2 separate regions of the Homo sapiens genome follow, and region 2 is linked to region 1. The links come from fine-mapping of genetic effects on gene expression. A gene starts in region 1. The other region holds a variant in brackets. All regions are shown on one strand. Distances are from middle to middle. Region 1 holds the start of LINC01569 (long intergenic non-protein coding RNA 1569). Region 2 overlaps GLIS2 (GLIS family zinc finger 2).

Region 1 (2,885 bases):
CCAGCACTTTGGGAGGCCGAGACGGGCAGATCACCTTAAGTCAGAAGTTTAAGACCAGCCTGGCCAACATGGTGAAACCCGTCTCTACTAAAAATACAAAAAAATTAGCTGGGCGTGGTGGCGCACACCTGTAATCCCAAATAACTCGGGAGGCTGAGAAAGAAGAATCACTTGAACCCGGGAGGCGGAGGTCCACTGCGCTCCAGCATGGGTGACAGACCGAGGCTCTGTCTCAAAAACAAATAGAGATGAGGTCTTGCTATGTTGTCCAGGCTAGTCTAGAAATCCAGGGCTAAAGCCATCTTCCCCCTTCAGCCTCTCTAGTAGCTGAGACTACAGGTTAGAACCACCAACCCAGACTTCTCCCTGTACATTTCAATAATTATTTCAAAACTTAAAAATCTGAAAGAAAGCAAACTGCTTGATAGTGGCAGAAAGCAAGCATGAGGGGATTCTGGGGCTTGCTGGGGGTGTTGGCTACCTGGGTGTATGTTCAGTTTGTGAAAATTCACGGAGCGCCTAAGCTATGCACCCTCTTCTGAATGTGTTACCCAGTACTCCAATAAAAGGCTTTTGGCCCTGGAGAGGTGGCTCACGCCTGTAATCCCAGCACTTTGGGAGGCCAAGGCGGGCGGAGCACCTGAGGTCGGGAGTTCGAGACCAGCCTGACCAACATGGAGAAACCCCGTCTCTACTATAAGTACAAAATTAGCCGGGCGTGGTGGCGCATGCCTGCAACCCCAGCTACTCAGGAGGCTGAGGCGGAAAATCGCTTGAACCCGGGAGGCGGGGGTTGCGGTGAGCCCAGATCGCGCCACTGCACTCCAGCCTGGTCAACATGAGCTAAATTACGTCTCAAAAAAAAAATAAATAAATAAAACAGCCGAGCTGGAGGTGTGTGCCTGTAATCCCAGCTACTCAGGAGGCTGAGGCGGGAGGCTCGCTTGAGCCCGGAAGGTGGAGGCTGCAGTGAGCCGAGATCGCGTCACTGCACTCCAGCCTGGGCGACACAGCACGACTCTTTTAAAAACAGGTTTTGTTGAGTGCCGCATTGATCCGGTCCCTCCCACGCCCCCTGTGCTTCACAAAAACGTCAGGTCCGAGCTCCGGCGCGGCGGTCTCCTCCTCCGCGGGTCCGGGCCGGAACTCGGCAGAAGGACGAGCAGCTCCTTGGGGCCGGCAGTCTCCCATCGCACTGAGATTGACACGGCAATGTTTCGGATACTCTGGGTAAAAATTAAATGTCTTACGAAAAGTCCTGTCACCCGTTTCTTGATTACTTTTTACGGCGGCTTCCAGAACCTTTCGTCAGCGCGAGCTCCATGCCCGGAGGCCGCCGTCACCTGCTCTCCGGGAAGGCCCTGGGCAGGCAGGCAGCGCGCTGAAGGAGTCCGGGAGCAGATCGTGCGAGAGAGCGCGCGGGCGCCAGGCGCGGGGGCGGGGCCAGACGTGCGTGCTGGCGGGAGCGCGCGCGCCATGGCCTGAGGCGTCTGGGAACATGCGCGGCGAGGGGACGGGCGGGGCGAGTCCGGGAAGGGGCGGGGCCGCAGCCGCGCCCCTGACTTCCACCGCCTGCGGGTGAGACCGCCTACCATCGCCCGGCGCGCTTGAGCATGCAAGGGGAGGTGGGATTCCCCTGGCCCGCCCCCAAGCCACGCCTCTGGCCTATGAGAACTGAGCTGTCCCGCAGGGACCGAGAGAGGAGCCTCCGCTTTCGCAGGGGCTGGGCGTTCCGGGCGCACTGCGCCCTCTGTTGATCCTCTTAGGAGCTGCGTGGGGACCGTCGGGCCTGCCGTTTCGCACCTGGCCGAAAGGGGTCGCTGTGCCGGGCCAGATCCTATGTAAATTTAGCTGGATAATCTCAGCAAGAGAAAATTGGCTGCAGTGCAAAGAAGCCAGGCTCAAAAGGCAGGGTTATCCCATTTCTATGACATGTCACAGGTAAGACTATGGCAACATAGATCAGTGGCTCCTAGGGGCTGGGTTGACCACCAAGAGGCATGGGGGGCATTGGAAATGAAGGAACTAATTCATATCTTTTTTATTTTGCTTTGGTTTTATTTATTATTTATCTATTTATTTATTTTTGAGACAGTTTCGCTCTTGTTGCCCAGGCTGGAGTGCAATGGCGCGATCTCGGCCCACCGCAACCTCCGCCGCCTGGGTTCAAGCGATTCTCGTGTCTTAGCCTCCCGAGTAGCTGGGATTACAGGCATGCGCCACCACGCCCGGTTAATTTTGTATTTTTAGTAGAGACAAGGTTTCTCCATGTTGGTCAGGCTGCTGTCGAACTCCCGACTTCAGGTGATCCGCCCACCTTGGCCTCCCAAAGTGCTGGAATTACAGGCGTGAGCCACCGTACCCGGCCTGTTTTATTTTTTCTTTAAATCATATCTTGATCATAGTGGTGGGTAGGAAACTATGCATTTGCGTGTAGGAAACACGCAAAACCAAAAATCAGAAAGTGTGACTTCTACTAAATGTAACTACTTTCATTTTTAAAAATTATTTATTTATTTATTTATTTTTTAAGATGGAGTGTCGCCCTGTCACCCAGGCTGGAGTGCAGTGGCACAATCTCAGCTCACTGCAACCTCCACCTCCCCGGTGCAAGTGATTCTCCTGCCTCAGCCTCACCAGTAGCTGGGACCACAGTTACTGGCATTCGCCACCATGCCAGGCTAATTTTTGTATTTTTAGTAGAGACGGGGTTCCACCATGTTGGCCAGGCTGGTCTCAAACTCCTGACCTCAAGTGATCCGCCCACCTCGGCCTCTCAAACTGCTGGGATTACAGGCGTGAACCACTACTGTGCCCAGCCTAATTTTTGTATTTTAGTAGAGTTGGGGTTTCACCATGTTGGCCAGGCTGGTCTTGAACTCCTG
Region 2 (2,843 bases), 82 kb after region 1:
GGGCTCTGGGCCAGCAGGACCTTGACTAGCCCTCCCCTCGCACCCCAGGACTTCCAGCCACTGCGCTATTTGGATGGTGTCCCCAGCTCCTTCCAGTTCTTCCTGCCCCTCGGCTCCGGGGGGGCCCTGCACCTGCCTGCCTCCTCCTTCCTTACCCCTCCCAAGGACAAGTGCCTCTCGCCAGACCTGCCCCTGCCCAAGCAGCTGGTGTGTCGCTGGGCCAAGGTGAGTGGGGGCCAGCAAGAGTAGTGTGGAGTCTGGGGCAGGTCACCCCGCATGGGCTCAGAACACTTCCCATCCTCCGCAGTGTAACCAGCTCTTTGAGCTCCTGCAAGACCTGGTGGACCATGTCAACGATTACCATGTCAAGCCCGAGAAGGATGCGGGGTACTGCTGCCACTGGGAGGGCTGCGCCCGCCATGGCCGAGGTTTCAACGCCAGGTGAGGTGGGGGAGAGAGGGGTAGAGGGAGGACTGGGGTCTCCAGTGAGCTGAGCCGTGCCCCCCGCCCTCCCTGGAGCAGGTACAAGATGCTCATCCACATCCGCACACACACCAACGAGAAGCCACACCGCTGTCCGACCTGCAGCAAGAGCTTCTCCCGCCTGGAGAACCTGAAGATCCACAACCGGTCGCACACAGGTAAGAGGCCGGGGCCGGGCGGCTTGGCCCATGAAGGGGGCGCTCAGCTGAGACCGGCTGGGCAGGTCCCCAGGGGGAGGGGACTGTTAAGTAAATCCCGGGCCTCAGAGATAAGGGTTGATGTCATCGCCCAGGGGTCCCTTTTCCAATGCAGTTTGCTAGGGGAAGCATCCCCTGGGGGTCAGACCCCCACCCAGCACCTGCTCTTGGAGCACCAATGCCATTTCCTGGTTCCCGTGGGTATCTTCTGACTAATGCCACCTCTGTGATCGCAGAGGCCAGGTCGGCTTCACTCCTCACTACAGCCCAGGCCCATACCAGGACAGCTCTGGTTGTCAGAGCCACAGACATAATTTTACATTTCCTAATCGCTGCATAAAACACAGCAAAAATAAATGGGTGAAATTAATTGTAATATGGTTCGTTGACCCCGGTACATCCAACGTGTTATCAATTCATTATTAAAGACAAATCAGTGAGATATTGAAGTTCTTCATTTCATGACAAAGCCTCAAGGAGCTGATGTGTATGTTTTTTCCTGGTGTTTATTTCACCCTGGCAGCACATCTCCAGGTGGAGAGCCATGTATCAGGAGGTCAGTCACTACATGTGGCCCCCTGCTCTGGCCAGGGCAGCAGAAGATGCCTGGTGAACCTTCAGCCATTTGTTGAGTGAGGGCAGTAGCGCCCAGGCAGCACTCCCTGTGGCCAGGCCCACGCTGGGCGCCTCGTGCCAGGATGTGATCTCCAAGGCCATGGTGTCTTTTTTTTCTTGAGACAGACTCACTCTGTCACCCAGGCTGGAGTGCAGTGGCATGATCTTGGCCCACTGCAACCTCTGCCTCCCAGGTTCAAGTGATTCTCCTGCCTCAGCCTCTGAGGTAGCTGGGATTACAGGCACCTGCCACCACACCCAGCTAGTTTTCGTAGTTTTAGTAGAGACGGGGTCTCACCATGTTGGCCCTGCTGGTCTGGAACTCCTGGCCTCAAGTGATCTGCCTGCCTTGGCCTCCCAAAGTGCTGAAATTACAGGCGTGAGCCACCGGGCCCGGCCTCCAAGGCCATGTTCTGCTGCTGAAAGGCACATCCTCTGTAGCAGAGGGTGCAGGGCGAGGCTAGGCAGAGCTGGA[G/A]TCAACCAGGCTGAGTTTTCAGCCTCTGTGCCCTGCCTGGGGGCAGATCTCATGCCATGTGCTGGGGATGCCCCCTGCCCCCAGAATTGGGGCATCTATGTTCCCAGGGAGTGCTTGGCCCGGGGAAATGTTGAGTGCATGGGGTGAGACCCAGGAAGGGGAGAGACCCCTCATGGCGGCACTGCACTGCACCACCCTGCAGGTGAGAAGCCCTACGTCTGCCCCTACGAGGGCTGCAACAAGCGCTATTCCAACTCCAGTGACCGCTTTAAGCACACGCGCACCCACTATGTGGACAAGCCCTACTACTGCAAGATGCCCGGCTGCCACAAGCGCTACACGGACCCCAGCTCACTGCGCAAGCACATCAAGGCCCATGGCCACTTTGTGTCCCACGAGCAGCAAGAGCTCCTGCAGCTGCGCCCACCCCCCAAGCCGCCACTGCCCGCCCCCGACGGCGGCCCCTATGTCAGTGGGGCCCAGATCATCATCCCCAACCCAGCTGCCCTCTTTGGAGGCCCTGGCCTGCCCGGCTTACCCCTACCCCTGGCCCCCGGCCCCCTTGACCTCAGTGCCCTGGCCTGTGGCAACGGTGGGGGCAGTGGGGGTGGGGGGGGCATGGGCCCTGGGCTGCCAGGCCCCGTCCTGCCTCTCAATCTGGCCAAGAACCCGCTGCTGCCCTCGCCCTTTGGGGCTGGCGGACTGGGCTTGCCTGTGGTCTCCCTCCTTGCTGGCGCAGCTGGTGGCAAGGCCGAGGGGGAGAAGGGGCGTGGGTCGGTGCCCACCAGGGCCCTGGGCATGGAGGGCCACAAGACGCCCCTTGAAAGGACGGAGAGCAGCTGCTCCCGGCCAAGCCCCGATGGACTCCCCCTGCTGCCAGGCACCGTGCTGGACCTGTCCACGGGCGTCAACTCAGCTGCCAGCAGCCCAGAGGCGTTGGCCCCTGGCTGGGTGGTCATCCCGCCGGGCTCGGTGCTGCTCAAACCGGCTGTGGTGAACTGAGCCCATCCTGCGGACAGTTGTGGTGCCCCCCCGGCAGCTCCCGGCACTGCCCCCGACGAACGGAAACTCTT

Evidence for each region.
Region 2: its variant is fine-mapped to the expression of LINC01569 in monocytes after R848 (Quach 2016, PIP 0.95).

Annotation. Positions count from the first base shown.
Region 1 is chr16:4,252,397-4,255,281 of GRCh38, forward strand. LINC01569 (long intergenic non-protein coding RNA 1569) reads right to left here and starts at 1,393. Exons shown (of 3, transcript NR_039999.1): 1 at 1,251-1,393. RefSeq lists enhancers at 275-897, 962-1,171 and a silencer at 1,402-1,661.
Region 2 is chr16:4,334,753-4,337,595 of GRCh38, forward strand. GLIS2 (GLIS family zinc finger 2) reads left to right here. Exons shown (of 7, transcript NM_032575.3): 4 at 49-225; 5 at 308-441; 6 at 523-641; 7 at 1,973-2,843. The coding sequence ends at 2,772. Among named protein-coding and RNA genes, the nearest start is that of GLIS2-AS1, 7.8 kb to the left of the region's middle. The variant G/A (reference allele first, on the strand shown) is at 1,771.